Homo sapiens: one gene and its partner. The protein of the gene in region 1 interacts with the protein of each later gene in a biochemical or structural test. Each region holds a gene or a part of one and is shown on either strand. Other genes may lie near its edges.

Evidence for each region. The genes of interacting proteins can lie anywhere in the genome.
Region 2: the proteins of NKX3-1 (region 1) and TOPORS form a complex in vitro, tested with the Homo sapiens proteins (one study listed by BioGRID).

Annotation. Positions count from the first base shown.
Region 1 is NC_000008.11:23,679,809-23,687,369, forward strand, and holds the start of NKX3-1 (homeobox protein Nkx-3.1), read right to left. Parts: upstream 3,131-7,561; 5' UTR 3,082-3,130; coding exon 2,796-3,081; intron 1,832-2,795; coding exon 1,413-1,831; 3' UTR 1-1,412.
Region 2 is NC_000009.12:32,549,563-32,557,173, forward strand, and holds the start of TOPORS (E3 ubiquitin-protein ligase Topors), read right to left. Parts: upstream 3,025-7,611; 5' UTR 2,918-3,024; coding exon of another isoform or gene 2,875-2,917; coding exon 2,872-2,874; exon of another isoform or gene 2,672-2,871; intron 2,246-2,671; exon of another isoform or gene 1,582-2,245; intron 1,407-1,581; coding exon 1,212-1,406; intron 1-1,211. Other genes in the region: SMIM27 (small integral membrane protein 27), read left to right, coding at 2,873-2,917, 3,239-3,361; NDUFB6 (NADH dehydrogenase [ubiquinone] 1 beta subcomplex subunit 6), read right to left, coding at 4,314-4,382. UniProt on the Homo sapiens protein: Functions as an E3 ubiquitin-protein ligase and as an E3 SUMO1-protein ligase. Probable tumor suppressor involved in cell growth, cell proliferation and apoptosis that regulates p53/TP53 stability through ubiquitin-dependent degradation.

The DNA.
Region 1 (7,561 bases):
TAAGCCTGGCCCTTCATTCTGCGCTGTGTTCTTCCTCTGTGAAAATCCAATACCTCTTACCTCCTCTGCATGCAAAGATTCTCAAGGATTGTCAGACTTCAAACGTAACAGCAGAACCACCAGAAGGTCCTATAAATGCAGTAGTGACCTTCTCAAGCTGTCAGGTCTTTAAATAGGATTTGGGATTTAATGCTATGTATTTTTAAAGGAAAGAAATAAGAGTTGCTAGTTTTAAAAATGCATGTCTTTTAGCCAATTCAGAATCTGCCCCCAAACTTTTTTAAAAAGTCAAGACAGATAAAGCTTTGGGGAGACGGAAAAAAAAAAAAAAAAAAAAAAAAAAAGACCAGATCTCGGGCTAAATAAGCGAGGCATAAGTTAGGTGCAGCCAGACTAAAAATCTGGACTAAAATGAAGCCCTTTAGTGAGTAATTGCTGCAAAAAGGAACACAAAATTTTAAAAGGAGGGAAGGAAGAATTATGTTGCCTTTCAGGATACAGTATATATGATAGCCTGAAAACTCCAGGAAACTTCTGATTCTAAATTCTCCAGCCCAAGGGAAAAAAGTTGAGAAGAGGCCTTTCCACTTTCTACTAATAAAAAAATGCAACAGCCCCTAGCAGCAGTGTGGAGACCCTCCTTAGGCCCCTGTCTTGGACAAGCGGAGATTCTCCTGGCCCGGCCCCCCCTCTTGCAGTGGAGTTCTGTTTATACAGCTTGTCTTAAAATCACAGCGAGTGCATCTTGTTCTATTTGGGCCACCCTGTAAATACTTAAGTTGGCATACCATTTTAAAAGGAATAAAAAGGAATAAGAAAAGCTGATATTTTCATCTCCTCCCACCCATCTCCCCCTCCCATGCAAATATGTGCTGAGCATGAGGGCGTTCTCTTGGAGACTCTCTATTTGCCCCTCTCTTTTACAGGGACAGAGAGAGCCTTGGCCATATTCCAAGGCCAACAGGAGGCTTCTGGACTTAAGTTTAATTCAGTTGGTGACATCCTCATCCTGGTTGTCCTTTCTCCTGTTAGGTTTGCTCTTTCAGAGTTGATATTCAGTGACACAGGAGGATGGAGTTGCAGAACAGAATCCTTGGGTGTACAACTCATCCAAAATCATACAAAGTGCTGGAAAATACCACTTGATTTTCCCTCTCTCCCCTTCAAACAGGTAGCCAGAAGCAAAAAAAATGACCTACAGTATGCACTGGAGGAATGACTTAGGTATTAAAACTTTCACTGTCTCTGTTGTTTCATTGTCTCACCAGTGAAGAATCTGAGATTTCCACGCAAATCTCCAATAGCTTTGGTGTGCACACCTCTTGCTCCCTGACCTTGGCCCCTTGTGCTTTTCATAGAGACACCCTGGGGAAGGCAGTTTTTGATCATAATGGTTGTCACCTGAGCTGGCATTACCAAAAAGCTGGGCTCCAGCTGCCCACGCAGTACAGGTATGGGTAGTAAGGATAGCTGTTATACACGGAGACCAGGGAGGCCCGGGAGAAGGCCTCCTCTTTCAGGGCCGGCAAAGAGGAGTGCTTCTCCAAGTCTCCCAGCTCCGAGGAGAGCTGCTTTCGCTTAGTCTTATAGCGTCTGTTCTGGAACCATATCTTCACTTGGGTCTCCGTGAGCTTGAGGTTCTTGGCCAGGTGGGCCCGTTCAGGGGCCGACAGGTACTTCTGATGGCTGAACTTCCTCTCCAACTCGATCACCTGAGTGTGGGAGAAGGCAGCTCGGGAGCGCTTCTGCGGCTGCTTAGGGGTTTGGGGAAGCCTTGGAAGGGCGCCTGAAGTGTTTTCAGAGTCCAACAGATAAGACCCCAAGTGCCTTTCTGGAAAGGAGAGTGGGGAAGGAGGGATGGGAAGACAAAAGTTACATGTTAGCAGGGAAGAGAACAGAATTCAATCCACCCTTATCTCTTTAGTGAGTGAACAAACAGCCCACTGTCATCGTGGATACATTTCACTTTTTTCACATGACTAAGGAGCTCTCCGGAGTGAAGAGTGAGTAAATATGTTTATTACGCATTCATTTGCTAAGAATCATCAAGAACCCAAAGTTAGAGACGTTTCGTGGTTGAACTTTCTCCCTACTGTCTAGTAGAATTATATGGGGATTCTGGATCTGTGTGCTGAGGAGAGGCGGGAGAGGGAGGCAGGGAAAATGCCGTGGAACAAGATACCCGGGAAGGCCAGACCAAAAGACATCCGGTGTTAGGATCCAGGTGGGCAAGAGAGGGCTTGTGCCACTGGAGACGCAGAGGCAGGCTCATTCTGGGCTTTAATTCCCTCTTCGCTAAACGAGGCGTTCGGTCGCCTCATCAGAAGTGACAGGAAAGAAAATAAGTGGACTCTCTCTCCTGGACACCGGAGGGAACCCCGAATATACCGCTTTACTGCCCACGGGATTGGGAAGCACACGGAGGCTTTGCTGGTCAACCCCTGCTTTGTCACTGTTAATAAGTTATTATTAGTTCTCATAACTACCGGGGGGCTGGCGCCGATCGCGGGTGGCGCGGGGCGGGATCCGCTCCTGGGACGGTGGAGGGCGGTGGCGCTGCAGTCGCGCCGGCTTCTGAGCCCCAGGGAGCGGAGGGCACGGAGCCGGGCGAGTCCTGCGGTGTCAGAATCCTGCGCCGCCCTGACGCTGGGGCTCAGGGTTCATTCCGGGGGCGCGCGCGTGGCTGCGGAGGCGGGAAGGTCCCTCTGCCTGTCGCCGCGGAGCCCCGCGTCCCTGCACCCCGAGCTCTGGGGGTCCGCCTTGGGCTGCCCCCCTTCCCCGGCCTCGCCGCTTACCTGGCTCGGTCTCTGCCAGCGTCTCGGCCTCCTCCGGCGCGGCGCGGGGCCCGGTGCTCAGCTGGTCGTTCTGCGCCCCGGCGCGGCTGCGTCCTCCCTCTGGCTCTGGCTCTGGCTCCGGCTCCGGGTCGCGCTGTCTCTGGCTGCTCGTGCGGCCGCCTTGCCGCTGCGCGCCGTCCCGCAGGATGTCCTGGATGAGGAAGGACGTGAGCGGCTTGGACGGGGTCGGCGGCGCGGCCCCCTCCGCTTTCGCCTCCCCGGGCCGCGGCTCCGGAACCCTGAGCATCCCGGCGGCCCCGCCTTGGCCTGAATGCACCCGCCCGGCCCGCACCGCTTTCACTTTCCGCCTCCCGGCTCGCTTATAGCCCAGGGGAGCGGGCCGCGCCGCCCTCCCATTGGCCGCGGGACGGGCCGCGCCGCGGATTGGCCGCCCTGAGCCCCAGGTGACCCCGCCGATCTGCGAGCCCTGAGCACTGCCCCGCTCCGCTCCTCCCTAGGGGATTCCTTCCCCAGTTCCCTCTCCTTCCCCAATTCCCTCTCCTTCCCCAATTTCCTCTCCTTCTCCAGCTCTCCTCCCTCCGCCCTGAGCCGTTTTCCCAGGCCAGGAGCGCACCCCAAAGCGGGGCTCCTCTGCCCCAACCCACCCGCAACAGAGAGAAGCTCCTGGGGATGGGACGATCAAGACAAACAGTCCAGTTAGCTCTTCAGGACCGTCAGAGCCAATTACAGGGGATGAGCACGCAGTCACTGCAGCCGCGCGGTACCGTGAGAGTTCTGGGTGCTCTCTCTCTCTGGGAGAGATGGTGCAAACTCAGATCTGCAATATCTACGACCTCAAAGAGGCATGACAAGTAGGTGCAGCCAGACCCCAGGCTGAAAGAAGGAAAACACCTTTGCCAAAGCCTTTTCCCGTTGCAGAAGTGGTTTTCTTTGGTGGTTCCTTTATCCGCAATAACCTGTTAACTTTCCTTCCTCCCCAGACACATGACATACCATCCTTTTGAAAAGTTTCCAGACGGATGGAAGGCGTTTTAGGCCAGGACAAATGCAAAAACTGCATTTAAAAAAGTAGTTCAAAAGAACATCAGCATACTCTTTTTGCAGATTACCAACTGTTAACATGTAACCCATTGGCTAAACAATGGGTTAGCCAGATTGGTCCAACCGGTACTGTGACTGGACTGGACGGTACCGTGACAACAGACGAAAGTGGAACAGAGATGATGGAAGTATTTTCTTTCCTTGTCTTTTCTCTTCTTTTTTTTACGGACAGGGTCTCCCTCTGCCGCCCAGGCTGGAGTGCAGTGATGCCATCATAACTCACTGCAGCCTCGATTTCCTGGATTCAAGTGATCCTCCTGCCTTGGCCTCTCAAAGTGCCAGGACTACAGGCATGAGTCTCAGTGTCAGGTCGATGATGGAAGTATTGAATTAATGTTAAATTTACTGAAATTGCACATTGTACTGTCAGTGTACAAGAGAATATTTTTAGGAAATAAACACTGAAGTAAGTAGGAGCAAAGGCACAAGATTTATGAAACTTACATCAAATGGTTCTGAAACAAGGATGCAGATTGATAGATCCCACGCCATAAAGCCGATGGGTTAAATGGTAACAGTTGGTAATCTGGAAAAAGGGTAGGCTGATGTTTTTTAGAACCATTTTTTTAATGCAACTTTTTTGTCTGTCCTGGTCTAAGACGGCTTCTATTCAACTGGCAACTTTTCAAAAGGATGGTATGTCATGTGTCTCTGGAGGAAGGAAAGTTAATAGGTTATTGCTGATAAAGCGACCGCCAAAGAAAACTACCTGTGCAACGGGAAAGACTTTGGCAAAGCTGGTTTTCTTCTCTCATCTTTTCAAAGTCTCTTTATATTAGAACATTCTTTAATGTTTTCTTTTGAATCATTGTAGATTCACAGGAAGTTGCAAAAATAATACCTCCAGTGTCCTCCAAAGACATCTATACAACTGTAGGACAATGTAGAAAACAGGAAATTTACGTTGGGACATTACAGTTAACTAGACTACAGACGTCATTTATTTATTTATTTAGAGATAGGGTCTTGCTCTGTTGCCCAGGCTGGAGTGCAGTGGAGAGATCATGGCTCACTGCAACTTCAACCTCCTGGGCTCAGGAGATTCTCCCACCTCAGCCTCCTGAATAGCTGGGACTACAGGTGTGTGCCACCCTGCCCAGTTAATTTTTGTAGTTTTTGTAAAGATAAGGTTTCACCCTGTTGCCCAGGCTGGTCTCAAAGCCCTGGGCTCAAACAATCCTTCCGCCTCCACCACCCAAAGTGCTGAGACTACAGGTGTGAGCCACTGTGCTGGGCCTTATTGTGGTTTAAATTTTTAATTTGCATTTCACAAATGCCTAGAGATGTTGAATACCTTGTCATGTGCTTGTTTGCCATCCATATTTCCTCTTTGGTGAAATATCTGTTCAAGCCTTTTGCTCATATTATAATTGAATTTTTCTTTCTTTTATTTTTTAACCATTGAGTTATGATAGTTCTTTATATATTGCTGTTTGTAAGTCTTTGTTTGGTAGGTTATTTGCAAATATTATCTCCCAGTCTGTAGCTTGTGTTTCCATCCCTCTAACAGGATCTTCAACAGAACAAAAGATTTTAATTTCATTGAAGATCAATTTATGAATTTTTGAATTTTACAGAATGTGATTTTGATGTCCTGCCTAAGAACTCTTTGTTTAGTCCTAATACTGAAGATTTGCTCCTATGTTATCTTCTAAAAGTTTTATGCTTTACTCTTCAATCCATGATTCCTTCAGAATTAATTTTTGTATATAGTGTGAGGTTTAGATTGAGATGGCCTCCTTTTATTTCTAAAATTGAGAGTTGGGTATGAATTATTTAATAACAAGTGCTGCCATTTGGAAAAGATAAAGTCCTATTCTTATGACAAAATAAATTCCAGACAGCTCAAAGATGTAAAACACAAACGAGCACGTGAAAAAAATATTTTAACTACACTTCATCAGTGAAGGAATGCAAATCAAAATCACATTGAGACGAGCCTTTTCCACCTTTCAGATTGACAAAGGTTAAAAAAAATGGATAATGTCCAGTGTAAGTGAGAGTGTGGAGGAACAGCTGCTCTCATACAGCCATGCACTGCATCGTGACGTTTGATCAGTGACAGACAGCATATATGACGGTGGTTCCATAAGGTTATGATACTGTATTTTTACTGTACCTTTTTATGTTTAGATATGTTTACATGCACAAATTCTTACCATTGTATTACCTTTGCTTACAGTATTCAGTACAGTAACATGCTGTACATGTCTGTAGCCTAGGAGCAATAGGGCATACCATGTAGCCTAGGTGTGTAGTAGACTACATCCATCTAAGTTTGTGTAAGTAGCTCTATGATGTTTGCACAGCAATGAAATTGCCTAACATTGCATCTCTCAGAACATATTCTTGTCCCTAAGGATGCATGACTGTTTTTGGATGACAACTTGGGAATATTTGTCAAAATTAAAACTGAGCATATCCTTTGACACAGCTATTCTGTGTTTGGCAATGTGCCCTAGAAGTGCACAAATACACAATGTATTGACTTGGGAACATATCTTCAATTTGGTCAGAGACTGGTTCAAGCTGCAAAGCATGTTATAGATGAAACCCATTGTATAAAACAGCACTATAAGTTACCTATATAATGTTTTTCATTTGAACACTTTAACATACAGAATATATCAGGAACAAGATTTATACATATGTATTCTTTTTTTCCATAGAGTAGTTACCTCTGCTCAGTGAGATGGAGACAGTAGGTTGGGAGAGGGACAGGAGGATAGTGGAACAGGGTGTATTTCCTTGTACTCATTGATAATTTTAAAAAATGAAAAATATCAAGTTGGAGCTGAGCCTGGACTGCCCTCCTCCACCGCGTCCTCCTCAGGCCTGTGAGTGGGGCCACAGCTCGTGGTCCTCGGCCTCACCTCACTGCATCTTTTCTCCCCTTGTGCTTTGTATTTGGGGGTGTGGATGGCTCATCTTCTTTATGAGACTATGAGCTCCCTGAGAAGGGACTGTATCCTCCTCATATTTGTACCATCTCTAAAGTCTGGCTTAGTTCTCGGCATACAGAAGGCGCTCCATAAGTGCTTGCTGGCTCAATGTCCAGCTCCAGTTGTTATGACACATCTCACTGGCTAGCGGAATTATCCATAAGGGGCCAAAGGACCCCCAGGCAAATCACAGTGGAAGGCTCGTCCTCCTCCCCTTGCTGTGTTTATGCAGTTTAAACCGGGTGAAAATGTGCAAGGCAATCTGGAGACACTCAGGGGCTGCAGCCCAGAACAATGCCCCCTTCCAGCGATGACCAACCCCTAGTCCCCAGATTCTGTGAATATGCTATGTAAATAGACAGCGAAAGTTAATGCTGCAGATGGAATTAGGTTTGCTGGTCCGCTGATCCTGAGATGGGAAGGTTATTCTGGATTATCCAAATGGGCCTGTTGTGTCACAGGGGTCTTTATCAGTACAAGTATGAGGCCAGAGAATCAGAGTCAGACAAGATATGACAACTGAAGCAAGGCTAGAAAGAGTCAACTGTGGGAAAGACTCAACTGGCCCTTGCTGGCTTTGAGGGTGCAAGGAGGCCAGGAGCCAACTGATGCAGGCAGCAGGGAAAGAAAAGAAGTGGATTCTCTCCTAGAGCCACCAGAAGGAACACAACCCTGATGACACCTTGATATTAGCCCAATAAGCCAGTGTGGGCTTCTGATCTC
Region 2 (7,611 bases), on another chromosome or scaffold:
TTGATGCACAGTAAGAACTCAACAATGTTCTCTATGTTACGTGAACACGAAGTGAATTTCGGTAGCTCATCACCCATAACTGATTATATGGGTCCAGACAGAGGATAGTTTATAACAACAAAATAATCATCATACTTAATATAATTATTATACTTAATATTTCTAGGCAAAGTGACTAAAAAGGGTTCACGAATAGATGAAATAGAAAGATCACCCAAGTATTAAAAATAAACTGGTTCCTACCTCTTGCCACCTTAAAGAAATCACTGTACCTCTCTGAACTGCATTTAATCAACTCCAAAAGAAGATACAAAAGTCACAGGATCTCAGTAGATCCTATCAAATTTATCCAGATCCTATCAAATTTAATCCAATTCCAGCAAAAAGAATTGGCTGGGAACCGTTCGCCTCTAAAACCACTCATTCCAGACAAGTATGATTGATTTTAGCTGATTGTATAGCTTTCTTTGCATTTCATGGACAAAACCCAGAAAGCTCTCACCACTATTAACTTAAATCTTGGGCAGCTGTTTCTTAATTTATCTTAAATAATCTTGAAAATTACCTATCAAAAGGTCTACTCCGTTTTCCTCTTAAATCACTATGTGGCTCATCTCAGCACTGCCCCCTTCCAGCCTACAATCAGCAACCCATGAGGAAAGCTGCAGTAAATGGATGGATGAACAAGTCACGGGCAATTTCTGCTCAGAATGTTTAACACAACACAGACAAGTCCCAACTCCCAAAGCCACGGTGATAGTCGTTTACTTTGGTTCAGAACTGCCACTAGACTAAGATAAGCACCATGAGCATTACATAACCACAACGAACTTAAATATTGTTATTCCCATTTTACAGACAGGCTCAGGGATTTAAGGGACCTAGGCAAGGTCACATATCCTGTAAGTGGTGACGCCACGATTCAGTCTCATTGCTTTTTTGCTTTTCCCTGAGACCAAGCTCTTTCCAGTACACGGCCAGGCTCGCGCCCCTCGGGAGCGCTTGTGGGAAGCGCAACCCTCGCCTGCCCGCACCAATCCACAGGTGCGCGCAGGAGCCGCTCGGGGGCCCTGGCCCTGGCCCGCCGAGGCCCGGACAGCCCCGCAGGCCATGACCGCAACCCTCGGGTCCCGAGGCGCCGCTCCAGGCGGGAGCGCCAACTCCCACGGCCCTTCCGACCCCCGCGTCCCATTGTTCCGAATCTCACTCACCTCGGAGGATGCCGGCGCAGGCCTGGCTGGGGCGCTCGCCGCGAGCTCCCGGCAGCCCAGAAAGCTAGGTCGGTGTCGGCAGGATCCGCGAAGGCGTACCCGGCGACTTCTCCGCCTACCCTCCGAAGCGGGAGCAGGCGGGGGCGCTTCACCCTCCTCGCGAGACAGCGGAGACCCCAGCGGCGGCTGCGACCCCTGTGACGCAAAGGGCTCATCACCAATGGCAGCTCGGAAGCAGGGCAGAGAGCGAGACCCACCCCCCAGCTCCCGCGCATCAAAACACAACACCCGCCTTCCTCACGCATGCGCAGCAGATGGACGCCGGCCTCGGGGGCGGGGCTCAGCGCACCGGCCCAAATGCGGCCCCTCCCCCGCCGCTCCAGACCCCGGAGGAGGGCAGCGCGACCCTCCCCATCTTGTTACTGGTACTCAGCCACTGGGGACACTGACTGAATGTTCGCCCCTAACTTACCCGGAAAACACGAGAACTAGTTCGATGTCGTTTCAACCTTACCAAACTCTGCGGAAACTTAGGAAATTATCTTTAGTGTCTAGATAGGGGAATTGTTAGATGGACTTGAAGTCTCTCACCTCCTGTTGTACGCCTCCCGGAAGCAACACCAGGAGTCCAACGGGATCCCAAACCAGAGCCCAACCAGTATCCTATAAAGTCTTCAGAGAGGGATCCCCTCCAGGCTGGGGAGAAACAGGACAACCTAACAAAACAGGGCCTGGACTCCTCCCTAAACAGACCACGTTTTTCTCCGCTCTTCCCCTTCCCACTCCCTGAAATCTAGACTAAAACTCTTTTAAGATAACTGCGAGGTATAAAGAACGTCTAGAGCCTAAGCGGCCCGTTGCCAGATTCTACTCCTCAGGCCTCAAATGTGAGCGCCCCAAACATTCTAGAGCTGAACCTGGTACGCTCGCCCACCAAACTGCCGTGCTCGGGGCTTAGTATCTCACGCGCGGCAGTTCAAGAACATCAGACACGCTCAACAAACACTTGTTGCTTGACTGATACATTATGGCGGGTAACGCGTCCCACGTATTTCTTCTTAGAGATATACATTACGCTATACGTTTCTGAAGAATGGCTCGATTTACAGGGGTTCCCACAACGATTTGTCACATATAAAAGAGTGGGTGGTATTTTTACGTCAAAGATGAACAGGCGAACGTCCATCTAAATCGTGTGGTATCAGATGCGGGGAGGCGTGGGGGAGGGAGCGGGGGAGAAAGCGTTAATTCTTCCAGCTTTAGAGCCAGACGTAATATTTAAAACGTGGATTGTTTTTCAAATTAACTTTTAAATGGACACGACAGCACCTTATCCTGCATTAATATTGCATTGCAACTAGAAAGAAAACCAGTGGAGGTACGCCTATCTCCTTAGTTGGCAAAAAAAAAAAAAAAAAAGCAATTTTTAACATTTTCTCGTTTATTCCCCTCTCTAAAAGGCGGGCAAGGCCCCCGATCACGTGATACCGCCCCCCAACTCCGGGCGGAAGAGGCCAGCGACAGCGCTGCACGAAGCGAGTGGGCGGGCGCTCGTGCCCGGCTAAAAGATGGCTGCTGGCGCCTGGCAGCCACCGCCTGGGAGGTTACTGTAAGGCCCGCAGCTCCCGCCAGCTCCCGCGGACTGCTGCCGCCTCCTTACCATGAAGCCAGTAAGTCGTCGCACGCTGGACTGGATTTATTCAGTGGTAAGTCCCGGGGATCGCGGGCCCCCACCGTGTCGACTCACTGGGCCCGCAGGCGGAAAGGCCCTATTTCTTCAGCACCCAGAAACTCCAAAATCCATTCCTGAATTAAGCATTTCACTCCCTCACCTCGACTCCGCCTCTTCCTGGAGGATACGATCTTCCGCTTCTTACGTAAGGGCTGCTGGGTGTACCCGCCACTGGAACCCCATTTATTCGACTTTGTTACTTTAATTCCCACCTTAGCAATGGCAACGGTAACCTGACGGGGGCGAGGGGAAATATCAGGTAGATTTCACACCTCCTTTGCGATTTTTGGTTTAGTTGCTGCTTGCCATCGTTTTAATCTCCTGGGGCTGCATCATCTATGCTTCGATGGTGTCTGCAAGACGACAGCTAAGGAAGAAATACCCAGACAAAATCTTTGGGACGAATGAAAATTTGTAACTCTTCTGGATTTAATTATCTGAAAATACAGTTCTTTCCCTCATGCTTATGTAGATATAAAAATAAAATTCATAATGCAAAGTTCCCAAGTTTATTTTTGCATTATCCTTTATAACAAGCACTAGTATGCAAATTTTTCACTTAGAGATTTTAGTATTTTACATTCTCATGACAAAATTAACAGCAACCTAAATCTGACAGTCTTGAGTGTCAGATCATAGTTGGAATAAGCTTTTCAATCAAGTTTCTAAATTCTTCAAAAATGATTCGGAAAGCTTTTTTTTTTTTTGAGACGGAGTCTTGCTCTGTCGCCCAGGCTCAGTGGCACTATCTCGGCTTACTGCAAGCTCCGCCTTCTGGGTTCACACCAATCTCGTGCCTCAGCCTCCGCAGTAGCTGGGACTACAGGAGCCCGCCACCACGCCCGGCTAATTTTTTTGTATTTTTAGTAGGGACGGGGTTTCACTGTGTTAGCCATGATGGTCTCGATCTCCTGACTTCGTGATCTGCCCGCCTCGGCCTCCCAAAGTGCTGGGATTACAGGCATGAGCCACTGCGCCTGGCCGGAAAGATTTCCTTAAAACAAAAGTGCATGGAATTGCTGTTCTTACATTTGTTTATTGTGATATTTCACTGTTGCATACCCTGATACCAAATTAGTGTAAGTACTGTGTAAGAAAAAAACAAACAAACATGTAACTAAATACTTTTCCATACCGTTTTCCAAGTCAAGAATGACCAGAAAAAGTAGGTAGTCTCTCATATTTGTTTAGCATGTCCACTTTTTACTTATTGTTAAATTACTCAGTCTCAAATTGTACAATGCTTGAAAACAGATATGACAATTTCTGAGATTAAACTTTATTAAAGTTACTTTTCCAGAAAATTCAGTAAATATGGTAATATAGGAACAAACTTAGGCTCATAAGCCTTTTAACTTTTTACATAATCTTTAATGATGTTGATCAGGAAATTCTTTCATTGGTGGAATTACTTCTCCAGTCTCCAGAATTGTATCACCCTAGGAAAACAAAGATACAGTTAGTACAAAAATCTTAAGTCTACAGAGGTGATAGTTCTATTCTGTTCTATGTTCATCAGATCTCACATGGAAAATGTACTTGAGTTCTGGCATTCCCTTTAAAAGGACCCTAGACAAAGTAGAAGCTGACTAAATCTGAACAATCAGTATTCAAAATTTTAAGGTATAGTGAAATAATAGGGAAATTTTCACTCAGAAACAAAATAATCAAAAAGGGCACGAAAATTGTGTTCTCTAAGTGATAAAGGGATAATCTTTTATTTTGTATGACCCCAATAAATGGAGGCCCCAGAAAGAAGTTGCAAGGAAACATCTGCAGTTCCAGATAAGGAGGTAATGTACCCCCAGCAACTGAATGTGTTACGCAATCACCAGTTTTCTGATTGGCTTACATACTGAATACAGAATACAAACTTTGGCTAGGCAGCTGGTCCAGATGTCTTTTCAATTCTTGATATAGATGTGGGCAAAAAGGCATGGGCATTGAAGCCAGAACCAAGTGGTAAGAATCTTGGAACCTCCACTGACAAGCTGTATAGTTTTAAGACAGATTATTCAATTTCAGTTTCAGCCATGTGTTTAAGATAGATTCTGTTAGCCTGCCAGTCCCTGAATGACTGGGAAGAGTAGAATTGTCCCCATACCCACCCCAATCCCTGCCATTCCCTGACCTGGTACTGCTCAGGATTATAGTCCAATGAAAAAATAAATATGTTTATGCCATTATACATTTGGGCAACAATTTGTTAGTACAGCTAGCATTATCCCAATAGAAATCATTGCCTTGAAGTGGCACTAATGCTGCTGTAATAAAAATCAAGCTATAGGGCACTGGCTTAGCAGTCTGGTAGCAAAGATAAAGATGGAAACAAAAGGCAGTGGCAAACTATTTAGCAAAATATCTCCTATAACTTGGAAGCTGACTGCCTAATGAACTTGAGGTTCTAGAAGAAGTAGCTGGGAAAAAAAGTTATAGTATGTGTTTGGATCCTTGGGATCCTTGGATGCCTTGGGAATGTACTTTAAGAAGCATGAGCTCAGGCAAAAAGTGGCTGATTTGAGAGGCGACATAAAAATGGAGAGGACGAGAGAACACTTTGGTGCACGCTAGAGACTTTCTGTTCCTGACCAAAAAAAAAAAAAGTTAATAGAATCTAAAAATTTGGGCCAGTCATGGTGGCTCATGCCTGTAATCCCAGCACTTTGGGAGTCCAAGGCAGGAGGATTGCTTGAGGCCCAGAGTTCAAAACCAGCCTGAGCAAGAGTAGGACCCTGTATCTAAAAAATAAATAAAAAATCAGGACCTTGTGGTATTGAAAAATCACACTACTTCAGAATTCCTAAACAATAAGTTAACACAAGAAATCTGAGCAACAGAAGCCCAATAAAACTCAAACAGAGGGACACAGCCCTATGGCAAAGATCAGTTTAAAATGAAGGTAGCCTTTGAACCAGTCTGCCTCAGATGGCCTCCACATAGCTGCCACAGAGGTGAGAGAGGCAGATGCATAAGGACAAAGAAATGAGACAAGCTGGTAACTGTGTATAGGAAAAACAGATACTGGCATGAGACACTGACTAGAAGTAAACACATTAGATGTCTACCAAATATTTTTCTTTTCATGCTTCTAAATGTTAAGGGAAATGGATGGACAAACCAAACATATAGTTTACAGAATCCTGCCAGAATGTTTGAAATTAAAACAACCTCTGGCATTCAACCTCCTGCAAGCAGGTGGCAGATTCTGAAGCCCATACAGCCCCCTAAGGAGGGCATGCTTCCCAATACCATTTAGATGTGGTCTAGGTAGATAATGAAAAGAACAAACCCCCTGGACAGAGCCAGGAACCAGGAAGAACGATGGATAAAGGTGTTCTTTCAAGAAAACAAAATCAGTGCCCATTCAAGTAATTTCTCACACACGGGTTAGGAGTGAGATTTCAGGATTGCCAAGAACCAGTGACTACTATGCTATCCAAATTCTACCACTGAACAATGGGTGTGGTTGGGGGACAAGGATACAGTTAACTTGTCTTCTTAGTTCACTGATCCTCAGATCAACAGAAGTCATATATAAACCTGACATACTATTTTACATCATCTGGAGATCATGGATTTGGGGCCGGGGTGCAATGATGGAATGGGACTTTGGGATTTCTCCCTAAGGAGAGAGACTAAGTGTGTTATGCATGGGTAAAGAAAGAAGCCAAGAGCTGTTTGGTGACTAGAAAGATGGAATGTAGCAGAAACTCCATGAACAGGGGTCTGGGAAATAGCAAAGAGCACACAGATAATATTTGGGAAGATGACAGTGAGTTTTAGCTAACAGAATTTGAGCAGAAGTGATGTAAGCTACTTCTAAGCTTAGATCCTAAAAATCATCCCCTGAGACATCCTGCCGTATCTTTGTATCACAATCTTGGAACCTCATATTCGATAGGCACGGCTGTAAGATTGAGGAAGATCACCTGATTCACAGTAGTCTGTGATGTCAACAAGAAATAAACCTCTGTTTTGTTAAGCCATTGAGATTTGGAAGTTTGTTATTACTTGTCCTATTCTAAACATATATACAATGAGCATTCTTCAGTTCCTCAAAGGGGTCATGGCACAGAAACAAGAAAGAACCACAGTGGCAAAAAATACAGAAATATGAGAAATGCTACAGGATCCCTGATATGGTCTTCTGAATAGAGCTCTCCTTTTCCTTTGAACAGTAAATGGCAAAATAAATTAACATTTAAATGGAATAAATGGAAGACTAAATAAATATAAATTGCCCAGCTGGAAAAACCAGCAAGATAATTTCCTATTTTGAGACTACCTAGGCTGTAACACACATCAATGTTACACAATAAAACAAAAGGAGAAATCCCCTACTTTTTTTTTTTTTTTTTTTTTTTTTTGAGGCAGGGTGCTCTGTCGCTAAGGCTGGAGTGCAGTGGCGCAATCTTGGCTCACTGCAACCTCTGCCTCCCAGGTTCAGGCAATTCTTGTGCCTCAGCCTCCCCGGTAGCTAGGATTACAGGCGTGCACCACCATGCCCAGCTAATTTTTGTATTTTTATTAATAGTAGAGATGGAGTTTCACCATGTTGGCCAGGCTGGTCTCAAAATCCTGACCTCAGGTGATCCACCTGCCTCTGCCTCCCAAAGTGCTGGCATTACAGGTGTTAGCCACCGCGCCTGGCCCCCACTTTTTTTTTTT